Regions from separate parts of the Homo sapiens genome. Here all the other regions are reported to be linked to region 1. The links are microRNA targets in miRTarBase. Many come from high-throughput screens and were not tested one by one. Region 1 holds a microRNA gene; each other region holds the end of a gene's coding sequence.
The links. The annotated mature microRNA hsa-miR-939-3p reads CCCUGGGCCUCUGCUCCCCAG and lies in region 1 at 2,899-2,919, shown strand. An mRNA with a match to its seed (bases 2 to 7 or 8) in the 3' UTR can be bound and repressed. Matches are read on the target gene's strand: a 7mer-m8 pairs with bases 2 to 8, a 7mer-A1 pairs with bases 2 to 7 and ends in A, and an 8mer does both.

Region 1 (5,248 bases):
CCCCATCTCCCTCACAGCCCCGCCCCTTCCCATACATGGCTCCACCCCATCTCAGCCCCGCCCCTTACCCACAGCCCACCTCTTCCCATGGCCCATCCCATGTTCTCCATGGCCCTGCCCGTTCCCCCATGGCTCCCCTCATCCTGCCAGGTGCATGTGGACCAAGAGCTGCTTATCTACGAGGCCTTCCCCCACGACTCTCAGCTCGGCCAGGGCAATCTCAAAGTCCGCTTTAAGAAGGTGCCAGTGGCTGGACTGCTGGGGCGTGGGGTGGGTGTGGTACAAGGTGTGGGTTTCAGACCGGCAGCCCCTGGAGGACCTGCATGGTTCCCCCCCAGGTCCCTCACAACATCAACTTCCGTGAGAAGAAGCCAAAGCCATCCAAGAAGAAAGCAGAAGGTGGCGGCGCAGAGGAGGGGGCTGGGGCCCGGGGCCGCGTGGCGCGTTTCCGCTACTTCGAGGATATTTATGGCTACTCAGGGGTAGGCCAGCGCCTTTGCAGGGGTCTGTGGTAGAAGGGAGACGCGGCCTCATCCGCAGCATCCTCATCCACAGCATCCTCACGGTGCCTGCCCCCAGGTCTTCATCTGCGGCCCCTCCCCTCACTGGCTCTTGGTGACCGGCCGAGGGGCTCTGCGGCTACACCCCATGGCCATCGACGGCCCGGTCGACTCTTTCGCTCCATTCCACAATGTCAACTGTCCCCGCGGCTTCCTGTACTTCAACAGACAGGTGGGGCCCGGCCGGTTCCCAGCAGCACTGGCTGATGCTGCCCCAGCTGGGGGCTGAGGGGGAGGGGACAGGAGAAGGGACCATTGGCTCCACCCTGAGGACCAGGAAGGAGTGTCCAGAGGGCGATGGGGTTGAGGTCGAGGAGGTGGAACCTGTGACTTGGTTGCTCCAAAGGTCTGGAAAGGGGTGGTTGGGAGCTGGGGCTGCAGCCCCTGGGGTCCCCACCACTGCTCTGCCGGCTCGCCGGGCAAGCCCTCGCAGGGCCTGGCCTCCACACTTCTCAGGAGAGCTGACGTGAGTGCTAGCTCTGCCCCTTGGCTGCTCTGTGACTTTGGGAGGGCACACAGGCTTTCTCATCCTGGTTCCCTATTTAAGCCACCACACCACCAGGTCACTTGAGACCCTGCCTGGGATGCGGTGAGTGCTTCCTGGGTGCCTGAGGACTCAGGACTGTCCATGAAAGAGGGCAGCCCTGGCTCCCTCTGCCTGGTTTTCAGTCCCCAGCATGGCAGTCTGTGGGCTGCCCTTTGCAGCCTCCAGTGCCCTCCTGGCCTAGCTTTCCCATCCCCTGTGGCCAGCACCCCTAGCCCCAGCTGAGCGTGGGAAAATGGACAGGAGGAGCCCCAGAGGCTGAGTGGCAGCCCCTTCCAGGACCTCGCCAGGACACAGCTGCCCCTCACCCACCCCTGCTCCCACAGAGCTGAGGGCAACATCCCAGGGCTCTTGGCGGCCTGGGCCTGCCTGCCCCTGCCCTTGGCTAGCCCTGGATCCCCTGACCCCTGTGCCCCCACCCCAGGGCGAGCTGAGGATCAGTGTCCTGCCTGCCTACCTGTCCTATGATGCCCCATGGCCTGTCAGGAAGATCCCGCTGCGCTGCACGGCCCACTATGTGGCTTACCACGTGGAGTCTAAGGTCTGCCCCCACCCCCACCCCACCAGGGACCTTCTGGGCCTGGCCGGGCCACTGGTGTGTGACCCTCACTAACCCACAGGTGTATGCTGTGGCCACCAGCACCAACACGCCGTGTGCCCGCATCCCACGCATGACTGGCGAGGAGAAGGAGTTTGAGACCATCGAGAGAGGTGGTGACGCCCACACCATACTCCCATCCTCAGCCGCATCTTGGGGAAGCCCTACTCTGACTGTCACCCTTGGTCCCCACAGATGAGCGGTACATCCACCCCCAGCAGGAGGCCTTCTCCATCCAGCTCATCTCCCCGGTCAGCTGGGAGGCTATTCCCAATGCCAGGTGAGGCTGGGCCGGCGGGGGTGGGGTCTGCCCAAGGCCTCCAGGCAGCATCCTGAGGCCCCTGGCCCCCACAGGATCGAGCTGCAGGAGTGGGAGCATGTGACCTGCATGAAGACAGTGTCTCTGCGCAGTGAGGAGACCGTGTCGGGCCTCAAAGGCTACGTGGCCGCCGGGACCTGCCTCATGCAGGGGGAGGAGGTCACGTGCCGAGGGCGGGTAAGGGGCCAGTGAGCGGGGGCGGGAACTGGCAGCCCCTCTGCCATCCCCACAGCCATCCCACAGCCATACCCATGCCCTCCAGATCTTGATCATGGATGTGATTGAGGTGGTGCCCGAGCCTGGCCAGCCCTTGACCAAGAACAAGTTCAAAGTCCTTTACGAGAAGGAGCAGAAGGGGCCCGTGACCGCCCTGTGCCACTGCAATGGCCACCTGGTGTCGGCCATCGGCCAGAAGGTGTGCCAGTCCCACCCGGCGTGTGTCCCCCGGCTCACCCTCACCCGGCTCCCCGTCCGCGCCCGCTCACCCTCGCCCTCGCCCCCAGATTTTCCTGTGGAGCCTGCGGGCCAGCGAGCTGACGGGCATGGCCTTCATCGACACGCAGCTCTACATACACCAGATGATCAGCGTCAAGAACTTCATCCTGGCAGCCGACGTCATGAAGAGCATTTCGCTGCTGCGCTACCAGGAGGAAAGCAAGACGCTGAGCCTGGTGTCGCGGGTACACCTGTGGCGGCGGTGCTCGTGTCTGGGTGGGTACCCGCCCAAGGCACCTCTGACGCCCCCTTCCCGCCCCCAGGATGCCAAGCCCCTGGAGGTGTACAGCGTGGACTTCATGGTGGACAATGCCCAGCTGGGTTTTCTGGGTATGTGGGCAGGGCCCTGGGGAGCTGAGGCTCTGGGGGTGGCCGGGGCTGACCCTGGGCCTCTGCTCCCCAGTGTCTGACCGCGACCGCAACCTCATGGTGTACATGTACCTGCCCGAAGGTGAGTGCTTCCTCCACCCCCTCTGCCTGGGCCGGGGCTGGGCTAGCAGTGACCCCTAGGCCTTTCTGGTCTAGCCAAGGAGAGTTTCGGGGGCATGCGCCTGCTGCGTCGGGCAGACTTCCACGTGGGTGCCCACGTGAACACGTTCTGGAGGACCCCGTGCCGGGGGGCCACTGAAGGGCTCAGCAAAAAGTCGGTCGTGTGGGAGAATAAGCACATCACGTGGTTTGGTGAGTGTGGGGGAGCAGGTGTGTCTGGGTGGGGGGCCCTAGGGTTGGCCTGGCTCACACCAAAACCCTCACCCTACCCCTGCCAGCCACCCTGGACGGCGGCATCGGGCTGCTGCTGCCCATGCAGGAGAAGACCTACCGGCGGCTGCTGATGCTGCAGAACGCGCTGACCACCATGCTGCCACACCACGCCGGCCTCAACCCCCGCGCCTTCCGGTGAGCCCCGGCCCCGCCCCCGTGCAGCACCCCCTCCACCCCAGCCTGCCCTGACACCTGTGCCTGTACGCCCCAGGATGCTGCACGTGGACCGCCGCACCCTCCAGAATGCCGTGCGCAACGTGCTGGATGGGGAGCTGCTCAACCGCTACCTGTACCTGAGCACCATGGAGCGCAGCGAGCTAGCCAAGAAGATCGGCACCACACCAGACATAGTGAGTGCGCGCCCCGCCCCCCGCGCGCCCCGCCCCTCCGTGTGCATCCCCACCCACCCACCCACCCACCCTTCCATCCCCTGCAGATCCTGGACGACTTGCTGGAGACGGACCGCGTCACCGCCCACTTCTAGCCCCGTGGATGCCGTCACCACCAGCACACGGAACTACCTCCCACCCCCTTTTTGTACAAAACACAAGGAAAAACATTTTTTGCTTGAGAGGAGTGTGTGGTCATTACACGGCCTCCTGGCCCAGCTGCTGTCACAGCCCCCCAGTGCGAGTGCCCACGGGGCTCGGGGTGTCTACACCTCTAGCCCCGCCACCTCCGTCAGCCCAAGGTGAAAAGGGCCCCGCCGGCCCTGGGCGGCTGCACCCTAGGTCTCCAGGTACTGGTAGAGCTCCTCCGCTGGGGGCACGAGGCTCAGGTGGACCAGAGCACGAGCCAGGAGGGCGGTCAGCCGCATGGCCAAGGTCTCCAGCCTGCGTGGGTCAGGTCACAGGTCACAGGTGGGTGGGGAGCAGGCCCCCGCCACCCACCTGCCCCGCGGCCACTCACCTGAGCGCCACTTCAAACTTGAGCATCTCCCAGACGACCTTGGCGTGGCGCAGGAGGCTGGTGCCGTAGACACCCCGATACGTGGCGCCCGCCAGGCGGCTCCAGCCCCGGACAGCCCTGCACACACCCGCGTTAGCGCCGCGTCAGCCCCACACCAGCCCCACCACGGCCCGGGCGCCTCCTCGGGCCACCGACCTTTTAGCCATAAGGAAGTAGCGGTCCACGGGGGCGCCGAGGGCCACGTTGATAGCGCGCACGGTGTTGATGTTGCGCAGCACCAGCAGCATGGGCCGCGGCAGCTCCCTGAGCACCGCCATGACGGCCTCGAAGCGCTCGCGGGCCATGTCCACCATGTAGGCCGCCTCTTCGCGGCTCAGTAGGTGCGAGCCCCACAGCTGCCCCAGGCGCACGGGGCGCTGCATGAGCATCTCGGCGAACAGGAGGTAGTCTGGGGAGGGAGGGAGGGAGGGAGGGAGGGGGCTCTGAGTGGGTTCCGCGCCGCCCGACTCCCTTCTGTGGTGCCCCAGCCATCCCCGCACGCCCTCACCTTGCACCCCCAGTGCGGCTGCGTGCGCCCTCATGGCGGCGTCGTCCCGCAGGATGATGGCCCGCCACAGCTGGCAGAGGGCTGCGCGGTCCCTGGGTGTGGATGGGCCCGCAGCCATGAGCTCCCTGCGGCAGGAGAGGCTTGCCCTGCCCCACGCCCACCCACCCGCGCTCACTTCTCCTCCAGGAACTGGTAGAGCCCGTGGTCCAGCAGCACCAGCTCCGCTTTCCCGTCCGGGCCTTTCCGCACCAGAACTAGGGATACAGCCTCTTAGGTCGCGCTGCGCCCACCCTGAGACCCCCACCCCTGGGGTAAATTCCTACCGTTGCCAGGATGTGGGTCCGAGTGGATGAAGCCGGTGTAAAATATCTGCTCAGCAAAGGCCTTGATGAGCTTTTCTGCTATCTGGGGAGAGGAGAGGCATTGCAGTGGACACAGCACCAGCCCGCCCTGACCCGCCCCCGCCCCCCCGCACTCACGTCATGCACTGCCAGCCCCTGGCTCCTGATGGCCT
Region 2 (5,532 bases), not on the chromosome of region 1:
AGAGGAGCACCCAGCCCCTGAAGTCTCTACACCATTCCCACCTCTTCCGCCAGAACCTGAGGGTGGTGGGGAGGAGAAGGTTGTAGGCATGGAAGAGAGCCAGGCAGCCCCGAAAGAAGAGCCTGGGCCACGGCCACGTATAAACCTCCGAGGGGTCATGAGGTCCATCAGTCTTCTGGAGCCCTCCTTGGAGCTGGAGAGCACCTCAGAGACCAGTGACATGCCAGAGGTGAGGCTGGGGCTGGGGGAGCTCAGCTTGCAGGGGTGGGGGCCATAAGGAGGGAGATGGGGAAAGACCAGGATGGGCGTTTGACTGTAGACCTGAGCAGGGCGTACCCGGGCTAAGTCTGGCCCGCCCATGCAGGGTGTCCTGGGAGGACCCAGGGGGCCTGGTCCCAGCCTCCTTCACAGTCAGCCCAGTATCTCTTAGCACCCGGCGTCTCCAGCCTGTCCCATGAATACCCCTGAAGATGGGGACCAGCCACGTCCTGGGCCCCTGAGAGCAGCTGAGATCCAGTGAGGGCAGGCGGAGGCACTGTAGGCACAGGCTGGAGAGGGGTCACGGGGGCAGGGCAGGAAGCAGTGCCTGTTTCCAAGGCTCCTGGGTGAGCCAGCCCCAGCCTCGATCGCGGGCAGGTTCCAGCCTGACCACAGGACTAGCTGTCTCAGGGGCAGGGCTGCCTCCCCAGGCCATGAGCTCCACAGGCCCCTGCAGGCCCTGGGGGCGATCTCTAACCCCATGGTGGGGAGGCTAAATTAATCTCTGAAGCCCCTCCCTGGTCTGAGGAGCAGCACCTCAAAGGATGGGGTGGGGAGGAGTCTGCGCACTCACGCCGCCCAAGTCCTGCCTAAGTCAGCACCCTTGATGCTCAGTGCTGCGGGCACAAGCCTAAGCCTGGGAGCCAGGCCCTGTCTGGGACTCAAGGCCAAATGGCTGACTTGGAGGAAGGAGCATCCACTGAGGGCAGGAACATTTGGGAGAGGCTTCCTGGAGGAGGTGTGGGTGGGGAAGGATAGGGAGGCGTGGTGGGTTGATGGGCGGGTGTGGGCGTTGCTAAAGGCAAGAGGTCCTCACCCAGCACCGGACGCACGCATCCACCCAGCCCAGCTCAGGGGCTGGTGCCGGCACGGGTTTCACCTGCCGGCTGCCTACGCAAAGGCAGAGAAAGCATAGGAGGGGAGGAGGGCAGGGAGGCCTGGGTCTCCAGGGAGCTGAGGAGGGCTTCTGGGGGCCAGAAGGAAGCTACAAGCAGGTAGGGTTCAAGGAGCGGGGCAGCAGGGCTGGGGTGTTGTCCTCCCTCCCGAGGAAGCGTGGCTGTGGACAGCTTGGCTTTTGGCGTGCGTGCCACAAACATTCCGGCCCTCGCCTCCTCCTGGCTCTGTGCTTGGCACCCCTGCCCCAGATCTTCCCGGCTCTGTGCTTGGGCACCCCTGCCCCAGAAAGGCCTCCCATGGCTTCCGTATCCTCACACCTGTCCAGGTCTTCTCTTCCCACGAGTCTTCACATGAAGAGCCTCTGCAGCCCTTCCCACAGCTTGCAAGGACCAAGGGAGGCCAGCAGGTGGACAGGGGGCCTCAGCCTGCCCTGAAGTCCCGCCAGTCAGTGGTTACCCTCCAGGGCAGTGCCGTGGTGGCCAACCGGACCCAGGCCTTCCAGGAGCAGGAGCAGGGGCAGGGGCAGGGGCAGGGAGAGCCCTGCATTTCCTCTACGCCCAGGTTCCGGAAGGTGGTGAGACAGGCCAGCGTGCATGACAGTGGAGAGGAGGGCGAGGCCTGAGCCCTCACACATGCCCACGCTCCCCTGACACTGAAGAGGATCCACAACTCCTTGGAGAAACACCCTCACGTCTGTTGCCGCACACATTCCTCTCAGCTCCGCCCCATACCCGTCACTACAGCCTCACCTCCCACCCCTGTCACTACGGCCTCACCTCCCACCCCTGTCACTACAGCCTCACCTCCTACAGCCTTAAGTCCCAGGCCCATGTCTGCCTGTCCAAGGGCTCAAGACTTTCTAACTGGGATGTGGTAGAGGGACTGAAGGTACCTTTGGGGGCAACAGCACCCTAGTTTCATTCTCAACTCTAGCCCTGCACACTCACCTGTGGCACGGAATGAAAACAGAGCTTCCCGTGCAAAAAGGGTCACGCCTCCCACCCCCGCCCCCTCCCTGCACCTCCTGTCCTCTCCCAGTTCATTCCTGGAACCAGCCAGGCCAGGCAACCAGTGGCCCCCAAAGGCAGGCAGGATCCTCAGGCCCCAGCCGCGGGAGGCTGGAAGGGCTGGCAGATCGCTTCCCTCATCCACCTCCACCGGTCCAGGTCTTTGCTGCTGTCCCCAGACCTCCTGTGACACCACGCCAGATCACAGGGCACCAGGCCAGAGATAGTCTTCTTTTTGTCCTTTCTGGCCTCTGGCTAGTCAGTTTTTCATAGCCTTACAGTATCTGGCTTTGTACTGAGAAATAAAACACATTTTCATATTTGGTTATTTTCAATGTGACGATGAAGCCATCTGTGTTGCAGTCAGACCCTTCTCTGCTGGCTGGGGAAGGTGGCCGCCCCTTCCTCCCAGCAGTCTCCTCACAATTCCAAGGTGGCTCGTGACAGACCTATTTGGGGGAGTGCCGTGTTTGGGCGTGGCGTGGGAGGAAGATTGGGTAAGAGAAGAGAGGAAGTCAGTGCTATCTCCCCATCTCCTGGGGCAGGGCCTGGTAAATATGACCTGCTCACACCCACCCGCTCAGACAGGTCGGGCAAGGGAAGAAGTCGTCAGCGGGCAGCAGGCATGTGGCTCCACTGTGAGAGCTGGAAGGGGTTACTCATGAGGAAGTGCCTACCTGGACAGGACCAAGCCTGTTCCAAAAGCGAAGCCTCCTTGGGACACTCGGCGCCAGGTTCTCTGGCATGTTTTGGGTCCCAAGAATCACCTTCCTCCTGCTACAAAGCAAAGGGCCTGACTTTCCAAGCCAGGCTATTGCGGCCTGGGAAGAAGGACCCTTGGTGACACTTCCCCTCCTGCCCAGGGGTTCCTTCTGCTCAACTTTAGTGTCCAAGAAGAGTTAGTCATTCCATCTTTTTTTTTCTTTTTTTGAGACAGAGTCTGGTTCTGTTGCCCAGGCTGGAGTGCAGCGGCACGATCATGCCTCAGTGCAGCCTTGAATTCCCAGGCTGAAGAGACCCTCTCACTTCAGCCTCCTGAGTAGCTGGGACCACAGGCACACCTAGCTAAGTGGTTGTATCTTTGTCACTTCCTTTTTTTTTTTGAGACAGGGTCTTGCTCTGTCACCCAGAATAGAGTGCAGTGATATGATCTTGGCTTTCTACAGCCTCAACCTCCCGGGCTCAAGGGATCCTCCTGCCTCAGCCCCTGAGTAGTTGGGACTACCTACATGTGCCATCATGCCTAGCTAATTTTTATCTTTTATTTTTTGTGGAGACGGGGTTTTACCATGTTGCCCAGGCTGGTCTCGAACTCCTGGGCTCAAGCGATCTGCATATCTCGACCTCTCAAAGTGTTGGGATTACAGGCGTGAGCCACTGCGCCTGGCCCATCTTTGTCACTTCTATCCCTCTTCCCAAGATTATGTATGCTCTCTGCTCTATGATACATTACCCTGGTTTGGGGAAGGGGCCGGATTCAACTCCTTCCCTCAAAGCAGTCCTTAGAGATGGGAGCTGGCACCAAGCATTCTCAGTGACTGAGACTTCACGCCCAGTTTTAAGAATGAATCTCTCACCCAGGCCCTGGTGGGACTCCTAGCACTGCTCTAACCCTGAAGTGCGCAGTGGCAGGAGACTTGGATTTAGCCCCAGCTTCACCACTTATGAATTACTTTGCTTTGAGTCTCTGTTTCTTTCTGTAAAATAAAGGGATTAGACCTGGAAATCCCCAAGTACCCCTCTTCACTTTGATGCATTTTATATTATTTATTATTTATTTATTATTGAGTACAGTGGGGTGATCTCAGCTCACTGCAACCTCTGCCTCCCAGGCTCAAGACATCCTGCCTCAGCCTCCTGAGTAGCTGGGACTACAGGGCCACCACGCCTGGCTACACTTTGATACATTTTAACAATACATGCTATCTAGACATTGCTAGATTAGCCTCTACCTCCCTTCCAGAAGAGGAATCCTTGGCACCTATCTGGGTGGTATGCCTAAGGGTCACAAGATGTGGGGTACATGCAAGCTAGTTCTGATTCTTGATCCATCCTGCTGAGCAAACACTGGGGGCTACCCCCCACTCTGTGGCCAACTAGGAGTCCTACCCAGGCTGCCCTTTCAGTATTCCTGGCCTAGGGCTGCAGATGGGTGGGGTGGTGGTGAGAGTGTCGGGGTAAGCCAAGGCCAGGCCCTGCCCCTCCTGCAGCCTGTGCATCTCAGAAGGCAGGTCCAATCAGGAACTCAGAGCTGTGGGGCTCACTAGAATCCACTAGAATCCAGGAGGATTCTAAGAAGTAAGAAGTCAGCAAACAGGGAAATGAAGACTGGAGGGGAAACCGCATCAAAAATACAGACAAGAGGGTGCCGGGTGTGGTGGCTCATGCCTGTAATCCCAGCACTTTGGGAGGCTGAGGCAGGCGGATTGCTTGAGCCCAGGAGTTCGAGACCAGCCTGAGCAACATGGTGAAACCCCATCTCTACAAAACAAAACAAAACTACAAACAATTAGGAACCCTATTGGCTGGGTGCAGTGGCTCACGCCTGTAGTTCCAATACTTTGGGAGGCTAAGGTGGTTGGATCACCTGAGGTCAGGAGTTCGAGACCAGCCTGGCCAATGTGGCAAAACACTGTCTCTACTAAAAATACAAAAATTAGCTGGGTGTGGTGGCGTGCACTTGTAATCCCAGCTATTTGGGAGCCTGAGGCAGGAGAATTGCTCGAACCTGGGAGGCTGAGGTCGCAATGAGCCAAGATTGCGCCATTGCACTCCAGCTTGGGTGACAGAGTGAGACTCCGTCTCCAAAAAAAAATAAAAATAAAAAAAACCCTATGTATACACAAAGCTCACCCAAATTGCTAAAGGGGCAAAAAATAATAAGAAGGATATAAAATGAAAAGTAAATCTCACTCCTACTCTGTCCTCTAGTCCTTCACATCTACTCAGGCAATGACTTGTTACCAGCTGCCTTTGATGCCCTCCAGGTACCCCATGCTTATGTAATCAAATATATTGGTATGTGTATTTTTTAAAAATACAGACAATAGCATGTTAACATACTATTCTACACTTTGAAAATTGGTTCATATCAGAGTTCCACATCGGTACCGTGGTGTTATATATACATTGGTTTTCATCCAGGCTCCTGGCTCATAACCCTCATAGCCCTTGTTCAGTCTTTTGTTCTAATGTTGAGTGTGTCAGGCCTCAGGAGCAGGCCGCAGGAAACAACCTCTTGACATTCTGCCCTCCTCTCCCTTGCCCCAAGGCAGGGCTCTACTGTTCACCCTCACTTTCAGATTGTGGGTTATAAGACCCTCCCCAGAGAGACCCTCCTCCTCACTCTATACCCTGGTGTAAGGAATGC
Region 3 (5,532 bases), not on the chromosome of region 1:
ACCCCACCTTTCATTTCCTTCAAGTCTTGAGATCTTTTTGAACTAGAAGCATGCATTTAGAAGTGATATTGATATCACCATCTCCTGTTGGTAGATAGATCATTGAGTGGAAAGAAGAGGGTTCAAGGGATTCTCCCACCTCAGCCTCATAGTAGCCACCACGCCCAACTAATTTTTATATTTTCAGTAGAGACGGGGTTTCATCATGTTGGCCAGGCTGGTCTCGAACTCCTGACCTCAGGTGATCCACTGCCTTGGCCTCCCAGAGTGCTGGGATTACTCCCAGAGTACATGAGCCACCGCACCAGGCCAGGGCAAACCCTTTCAAGCAGGAGTTCCAGTATACTGAGAGATGGAAATGCAATTGATGTGAAGTCCTAGCAGTAGCAACCAGCAGAGCTGGCCTTCTTCCAGGCTTGGAGATCCTCTGCCAGATGCTCATCTTACCAGATGCAGGCAGACCTCTTCATTTCAGAAAGGTAGACACTGAGGGACAGAGAGACCAAGGCCAGCAGGAAGTCAGTCACTTTAGTAAAGGGTCCACCAGTCTATCAGTTTCATGAATGTAGAGTCTGTGCCTGCCTTGTACACCCCTCTATTTGCAGTGACCAGAATAAGTAGTAGGACTGTAAATTTATGTTATAATGAATTCATTACCATTATTTAAAGTGGCATGTTCATGCTTTTTTTTTTTTTTTTGAGATGGAGTCTCGCTCTGTCACCCAGGTTGGAGTGCAGTGGTGTGATCTCAGCTCACTGCAACCTCCACCTCCTAGGTTCAAGTGATTCTCTTGCCTCAGCCTCCCGAGTAGCTGAGACTACAGACGTGCCACCACACCCAGCTAATTTTTTGTATTTTTAGTAGAGATGGGATTTTGCCATATTGCCCAGGCTTGTCTCAAACTCCTGGCCTCAGGTGATCCATTGGCCTCGGCCTCTCAAAGTGCTGGGATTACAGGCGTGAGCCACCGTGCCCAGACCCTGTGCTCTTGATTTCCTATCTTTGTACTTGGCTTTTCTCTGGCCCCACTGGTACTATTGTTAGAGGTATCTCATTTGGAGGTGAAAGGAGGGGAAATAAATACAGCAGTCTTGTCTTTTAAATAAATACAGCAGTCTTATGTTACTCTACTCTGAGATCTGTCTGGCCATTGTTGGCAATTTCATCTGAGCATCAGCAATTGCTAGTGACAGCCCTACATCTGGGACTCACTTTCCTGTTTGGTATAAATGTTTCTGGAGATTAGAATAAGGGAAGAGAAGTCGTTTTAGCATTTCCGTATCTCAGTTCCAAAGAGGTTTAAAAGGCACGTGCAAATGACAACCCCACAAAACAAAATCAACTGAGCAAAAATCAATGCTCTGCCCAAGAGGGACCATCTTTAAGAAGCTTTAAGTGAAGTTTACCTTGAAAGTTGTAATTAGAAGCTTCAGGAAGCAAGTGCCTTTATGGCAGAATGACTGATGTTACTCCCAGGATCTCATGGAATTGTAAAATTTTATCTCTGTTCTGTGTAAGTCAACCTAAATCAAACAGAAATATTAGTGTTTGGGTACATCAAAACACCTTTAACTTGTCCTTTCATTTTGGTTTGCCTTTTGACAGGATATAATCACAGATCCATTTAAGCTTGCAGAAGAGTCTGACAGTATGAAGTCCAGATGTGTCCCTGATGCTGCTGGAGGCTGCTGTGGCACAAAGAAAAGCTGCTAAATCTATAGCCAACCAGGGGACCACAGTAGTGGGCAAGAGTGATCTGCATGTTTTTTAACCTGCTTTTCCCCATAGCACAGACCATAAGAAACAACAAATGGGGCCGGGCACAGTGGCTCATGCCTATAATCCCAGCACTTTGGGAGGCCGAGGCAGGCAGATCACCTGAGGTCAGGAGTTTGATACCAGCCTGGCCAACATGGTGAAATCCTGTCTCTACCAAAAATACAAAAAAAATTAGCTGGGCATGGTGGTGCACACCTATAGTCTCAGCTACTCGGGAGGCTGAGGCAGGAGAATTGCTTGAACCCAGGAAGTAGAGGCTGCAGTGAGTAAGCATCACGCCACTGTACTCCAGCCTGGGCAACAGAGCAAGACTCTGTCTCAAAAGCAAAAAAAAAAAAAAAAAAAGAAAGAAAGAAAAAGAAAACAACAAATGGCAGAGAGCCACCATATTCCAAATCACTGAAAAAAATAAATGAATTATTTTTATTTATTTATTTATTTTTTTGAGATGGAGTCTCGGTCTGTTGCCCAGGCTGAAGTGCAGTGGCCCCATCTCAACTCACTGCAAGCTCCACCTCCTGGGTTCACGCCATTCTCCTGCCTCAGACTCCCAAGTAGCTGGGACTACAGGCACCTACCACCATGCCCAGCTAATTTTTTGTATTTTTAGTAGAGACGGGGTTTCACCATGTTAGCCAGGATGGTCTTGATCTCCTGACCTCGTGATCCGCCCGCCTCGGCCTCCCAAAGTGCTGGGATTACAAGCATGAGCCACTGCGCCCGGCCATAAATGAATTATTTTTAAGAGGCATTGATTAAAGATTCACAGCAAATCACTAGTTAAGCAGATTTTTTTTCTATTTCCTACTTCAAAGTTCTGGTGCCACATAGTGGTCAGAAATGGAACAGAGAAGCTGTCTTAAGCCTTGTTCAAGAAGCAGGAAAGGCATCAGAAGAAGTAACAGTTGGCAGAGGGTCTCAGGAAAAACATCTTCCTTCTGATCTTTTGCATAGCACCTTTTGGAATTTTCATCATGTTTGCTTATTAAACAAAGCTCCTACTGCCATCATACTAATCATGCAAAAAGATTGCCAAATCATGTTTGGTAGGAGGACTTTTGAGGTAGCTTTTGAACAAATGTTTTTTTCTTTTTTCTTTTTTTTTGCAATAAAGAAAACAAATTAATCATAAACATCTTTGAATCAAGTATCTCAAGAAAACAAATGAATCATAAGTATCTCACCCTAATGACTGATGACATAGTGATTATTTATTGTAAATTATCCTAACTGGGTCAGGAATAGAGTTCGATCGTTTTTTAAAAAGAGAGCTAAAAGATGTAAAAATGACCAGGCATGGTGGTATGTACCTGTAGTCCCAGCTACTGGAGAGGCTGAGGCAAGAGGATCGCTTGAGCCCAGGAGTTCCAGGCTGCAGTGAGCTATGATTGCACCACTGCACTCCAGCTGGGTGACAGAGCAAGACCCTGTCTCTAAAAAACAATAAATAAATAGGCTGGGTGCGATGGCTCACGCCTGTAATCCCAGCACCTTGGGAGGTCAAGGTGGGTGGATCACTTGAGGTCAGGAGTTCGAGACCAGCCTGACCAACATGGTGAGACCCCCATCTCTACTAAAAATTCAAAACTCAGCCGGGTGTGGTGGCATGTGCATGTAATCCCAGCTACTCGAGAGGTTGAGGCACAAGAATTGCTTGAATCTGGGAGGTGGAGGTTGTAGTGAGCCAAGATCGCACCACTGCACTCCAGCCTGAGTGACAGAGTGAGACCCTGTCAAAGAAAGAAAGAGAGAGAGAGAGGAAGGGAAGGAGAGAGGAAGGGAGGGGAGGGAGGAAAGAGATGTAAAAATGGTAGGTTTTCTTTTTCTTTATAAGGTGTCCTGGTTAAACTTTTAGCAAAATGATAGATTCAGTTTTTCCATAGTTAAAGAAGAATATTAAGAACATTAAAGAAAGGTTCAAGGATGGTAAATAATTTGAATTCCAGCTGTACTTGAAGACTTTATTGGAGGACACAGAAAGGTATAAGTGATGGTCATTATCATCAGGAGCTGGATAATTCAGTTTTTAAATAACAGCCTTCAGGCTGGGCGCGGTGGCTCACACCTGTAATCCCAGCACTTTGGGTGGCCGAGGTGGGTGTATTGCTTGAGTTCAGGAGTTCGAGACCAGCCTGGACAACATGGTGAAACCCTATCGCTACTAAAAATTCAAAAAATTAGCTGGGTGTGGTGGTGCACGCCTGCAATCCCAGCTACTCGAGGCTGAGGCACGAGAATTGCTTGAACCCAGGGGATGGAGGTTCCAGTGACCCGAGATTGCGCCACTGCACTCCAGGCTGGGTAATAGGGCGAGACTCCGTCTCAAAAACAATAAATACAAATAAATAAATAAATAGCCTTCAACCAATCAAGGGTTTTGATAAGATGTCAACCAGTTGCCCTGGGCTCAGTACAAAAACAACCAGGGGCATGGCATGGTCCAGGGGATTTCGGACTAGGGGTTTGAGAATTTTAAGGCATGTAAAACATTGGAATGGATTCCGTAGGATAGACTTCTGTTTTAAGAAAGCTGTTTAATATGGAGAAATTCTCAAATTTTTGAGTAGGTTCAGCTATAGAGCCTAACTTACTATTACAGACAGAGGAAAGAACTAGGTAGTATTTTTTTAAGCCCTATTCACCTCCATGACCTTAATTTTAAACATGCTTGCTTGGTTCTAGGGTGCCGTATCTATCTAGTCGTAACCTACTTTAATGTGAAAATGGTACATTACAGCATTAGCTACAATGGTACAGCTGGAATAAGCATACTTTGCTCTTCATGAGCACAAGATGGCCCTGCTTGGGGGGAATTGATTGAAGGGTGTTCTGTTGGCTGGGTGTGGTGGCTCATGCCTGTAATCCCAGTACTTTGGGAGGCTGAGGCGAGTGGATCACTTGAGGCCAGGAGTTCAAGACCAGCCTGGCCAACATGGCAAAACTCTGTCTCTACTAAAAATACAAAAATTAGACAGGCATGGTGGCCAAGGCCTATAATCTCAGCTACTCAGGTGGCTGAGGCACAAGACTCGGCTGAGCCTGGGAAGTGGAGGTTGCAGTGAGCCTGGGAAGTGGAGGTTGCAGTGAGCCGAGATCACACCACTGCACTCCAACTTGGGTGGCAGAGCGAGACTCTGTCTCAGAAAAAAAAAAGGGGGGGGGTGTTTTGTTTATTTGGTTTATTGGGCTTTTTGGCATTTACAAGGAGAGGGTATTAGCTTTTTACTTGTCCTTCTGAACTCTCAGTTCCCCAAAAAGATGTTGAGTAATGGGATTGGGCTGGGCAACTTAGCAAGACCCCATCTCTAAAAAATAAAAATTTTATATTTTTTTATTTTTATTTTTTTTCAAGACGGAGTCTTGCTCTGTCGCTCAGGCTGGAGTGCAGTGGCATGATCTTGGCTCACTGCAACCTCCGCCTCCCAGGTTCAAGTGATTCTCCTGCCTCAGCCTCCCGAGTAGCTGAGATTACAGGCACACACCACCACACCTGGCTAATTTTTGTATTTTTAGTAGAGACGAGGTTTCACCATGTTAGCCAGGGTGGTCTCAAACTCCTGACCTCATGATCCACCTGCCTTGGCCTCCCAAAGTTCTGGGATTACAGGTGTGAGCCACTGTGCCCAGCCTAAAAAAAAAAAATTAAAAAAAAAAAAAAAGAATCATGGAAGGCTGCAGAAACTTTTCAGCTTACCAACTCAGGGAGGCCCAGCAGTAGCCTCAACAGGCCCCCACCCCCACATCCAGCCATG
Region 4 (3,000 bases), not on the chromosome of region 1:
GAGACAAGACTATTTGTATCACCAGTGAGAGTTACTAGTCATTTTATATCCATTAACTCACAAGGGATGTACAGTGTATTTTATAGATAAAATTGAAGCTCAAAAGAGTGCAGTAACTTGGCCAGGTCTACATATTTAGGTAAATGGTAGCACCAGGATTCGGGCCTGCTGTTTTCTGATTCCAAGGCTAGCATTCCATTCTGCCTCTGCATTTTGTGTACCACTGGGGCACCAACTGATGCCTTCTGGAGTGTTTGATATCCTGGGGGCCATGTGTCTGATTTTCCCAAATGAAGAAAGAAAGGAACAGAAAAAGCCCCAGGATTGTATTTCCTCTTAACCTTTGCCTTGCTATTTGTGTCTAGATATATAGTCAACATGTGGCACTGTGCAGAATGGAGGGACTGCCGTACCCCACCATGTCAGAGACCATGGCCGTGTGTTCTCACCTGGGCTCCTGTCGCCTCCTGCTTGTGGAGCCCAGCAGGAACGATCTGCTCCTTCGGGTGCGGCTCAACGTCAGCCAGGATGATGTGCTGTATGCGCTGAAAGACGAGTAAAGGGGCTTCACAAGTTAAAAGACTGGGGTCTTGCTGGGTTTTGTTTTTTGAGACAGGGTCTTGCTCTGTCGCCCAGGCTGGAGTGCAGTGGCACGATCATGGCTCACTGCAGCCTTGACTTCTCAGGCTTAGGTGACCCCCCAACCTCATCCTCCCAGGTGGCTGAAACTACAGGCACATGCCACCATGCCCAGCTGATTTTTTGTAGAGACAGGGCTTCACCATGTTGCCAAGCTAGTCTACAAAGCATCTGATTTTGGAAGTACATGGAATTGTTGTAACAAAGTATATTGAATGGAAATGGCTCTCATGTATTTTGGAATTTTCCATTAAATAATTTGCTTTTTCCTGAGTGTTTGTGAAGTTATTACATTATAATCATTACAAACATCTGATTATGAAACCAAACTGTCCTTCCTACAATAGTCCTTCCATGTGACTTTTATTTCTGTTACTAGGCCTGCCATTTATTTAATGCTAACATATATAAAATATAAGTACACGATTTACTTGTATCTATATAAAATAGTTCTGGGAGAGTATGCAAAAAACTGGTTACACTGATTACCTCTGGAAAGAATCAGATGGAAAGAATCAGATGGCCAGGGTTAGGGGTTAGAGGAGGACTTTTCACTGTATGTCATTATCTGTCTTAAGTTTCAAATAATATAAATAAAATTTAGGCCAGGGGCGGTGGCTCACACCTGTAATCCCAGCACTTTGGGAGGCCGAGGCAGGTGGATCAGGAGATCGAGACCATCCTGGCTAACACGGTGAAACCCTGTCTCTACTAAAAATACAAAAAAATTAGCCAGTTGTGGTGGCGGGCGCCTGTAGTCCAGCTACTCGGGAGGCTGAGGCAGGAGAGTGGCATGAACCCGGGAGGCGGAGCTTGCAGTGAGCTGAGATCGCGCCACTGCACTCCAGCCTGAGCGACAGAGTGAAACTCCGTCTCAAAAATAAATAAATAAATAAATAAATAAAATATAGTTTATAAAAAAGGAACTACTGGAAATAATATAAATCATAAGTAATCTCTAGCCACAAATAGCTAGAAAGTGTAATTTTTACAAAGGTACCATTTACCATAAAAACAAAACAAACCTTTAAATACAAAAGATTTATATGTCACAGAAAATATAAGGTACTTAGAAATAAATTGATTTAAATATTTATTTATTTATTTATTTTTTCCCTCTGTCACCAAGGCTGGAATGCAGTAATGGATCATAGCTCACTCCAGCCTTAACCTCCTGGGTTCAAGTAATCCTGCCTCAGCCTCCTAAGTAGCTGGGATTCCAGGTGTGGGCCACCATGTCCGTCTCCTAGGAATAAGTCTAATAAAGAGATGCAAGTAATCTCTAGATAGAAATCAATTCCAATCAAAATCTTGGCAAGGTTTCTTGTATGACTTTGCAGTTAATTCTAATATTTATATGGAAACCAACAACAGGCAATGAACATCTAAAACCTCATGAAGTACTGAGGCTGGGCGTGGGTGGCTCATGCCGGTAATCCCAACACTTTGGGAGGCCAAGGCGGGTGGATCACCTGAGGTCAGGAGTTCGAGACCAGCCTGATCAATATGGTGAAATCTCGTTTCTACTAAAAATGCAAAAATTAGTCTGGCGTGGTGGTGTCACCTGTAGTCCCAGCTACTTGGGAGTCAGGAGAATTGCTTGAACCCACCCAGGAGGCAGAGGTTGCAGTGAGCTGAGATCACACCATTGCACTCCAGCCTGGGCGACAGAGCAAGACTCCGTCTGAAAAAAATAAATAAAACCTAATATGAGGTACTGAAAAAAAACAGCCCCACCCGTGTACTAGTCCTGTCAGAAATGCTTGTCCTAAATTTACTGATGAGAAAATTATCAGACAAATCTAAATTTAGGGAGAAACTCTGCAAAGCAGCTGTTCAACTCATTGAAAATACTAATATCACAAGAAAAAAAACACAAAACATGGAGGAACTATTCTACACCAAAGGAGAATAGAGACATGAGAGCTAAATGCACTATATAAACCTTGACTGGGTCCTGGATTTAGGAAATATAAACAATTATAAACATTATTAACTATGTATTAGACAGAAGTATTTTGTAAGTGTTAAATTCCCCGAGCGTGATAAATTTGTGATTATGTAGGAGAATGCTGTTCTTAGGAGATTCATAATGAAATATTTATAAGTGATGTATTATGTCTGCAACTCATTCTCAAATCATTTAGCAAAAATATGTATTTCTATATTCACATATGTATTTATAATTACATATAATGGATTGAGGATCAATATCAATATTTTTAAAACTGCAATGAAAAAGAAAAAATGAGCCAGGCACAGTGGTTCATACCTGTAATCCCAGCATTTTGGGAGGCCAAGGCAGGTAGATCACCTGAGGTCAGGAATTCGAGACCAGCTCGGCCAACATGGTGAAGCCCC

Region 2: miRTarBase lists SSH3 as a target of hsa-miR-939-3p. The part of its 3' UTR that is shown has no 7-base or 8-base seed match.
Region 3: the mRNA of AS3MT is a reported target of hsa-miR-939-3p. Seed matches in the 3' UTR shown: 7mer-A1 at 2,023-2,029 and 7mer-m8 at 2,247-2,253.
Region 4: the mRNA of ORC1 is a reported target of hsa-miR-939-3p. Seed matches in the 3' UTR shown: 7mer-m8 at 631-637.

What each region holds. Positions count from the first base shown.
Region 1 is chr8:144,391,832-144,397,079 of GRCh38, reverse strand. MIR939 (microRNA 939) reads left to right here and starts at 2,850; the gene lies at 2,850-2,931. ADCK5 (aarF domain containing kinase 5) reads right to left here. Exons shown (of 15, transcript NM_174922.5): 9 at 5,214-5,248; 10 at 5,058-5,139; 11 at 4,910-4,988; 12 at 4,735-4,826; 13 at 4,383-4,635; 14 at 4,188-4,304; 15 at 3,838-4,111. The coding sequence ends at 4,006. CPSF1 (cleavage and polyadenylation specific factor 1) reads left to right here. Exons shown (of 38, transcript NM_013291.3): 24 at 151-240; 25 at 339-482; 26 at 580-732; 27 at 1,529-1,645; 28 at 1,725-1,815; 29 at 1,898-1,982; 30 at 2,057-2,198; 31 at 2,284-2,436; 32 at 2,525-2,701; 33 at 2,780-2,846; 34 at 2,920-2,967; 35 at 3,042-3,197; 36 at 3,284-3,413; 37 at 3,490-3,628; 1 more. The coding sequence ends at 3,762. RefSeq lists silencers at 1,172-1,385, 2,738-2,899.
Region 2 is chr11:67,310,111-67,315,642 of GRCh38, forward strand. SSH3 (slingshot protein phosphatase 3) reads left to right here. Exons shown (of 14, transcript NM_017857.4): 13 at 1-229; 14 at 1,481-2,482. The coding sequence ends at 1,777. Among named protein-coding and RNA genes, the nearest start is that of SSH3, 9.3 kb to the left of the region's middle.
Region 3 is chr10:102,898,987-102,904,518 of GRCh38, forward strand. It overlaps AS3MT (arsenite methyltransferase), which reads left to right. Exons shown (of 11, transcript NM_020682.4): 11 at 1,607-2,913. The coding sequence ends at 1,714. It overlaps BORCS7-ASMT (BORCS7-ASMT readthrough (NMD candidate)), which reads left to right. Exons shown (of 15, transcript NR_037644.1): 15 at 1,607-2,913. LOC107984265 (a long non-coding RNA gene) reads right to left here. Exons shown (of 3, transcript NR_160733.1): 2 at 1,408-1,524; 3 at 1-486. Among named protein-coding and RNA genes, the nearest start is that of CNNM2, 17 kb to the right of the region's middle. RefSeq lists an enhancer at 1-74.
Region 4 is chr1:52,370,741-52,373,740 of GRCh38, reverse strand. It overlaps ORC1 (origin recognition complex subunit 1), which reads left to right. Exons shown (of 17, transcript NM_004153.4): 17 at 366-912. The coding sequence ends at 560. Among named protein-coding and RNA genes, the nearest start is that of CC2D1B, 6.0 kb to the right of the region's middle.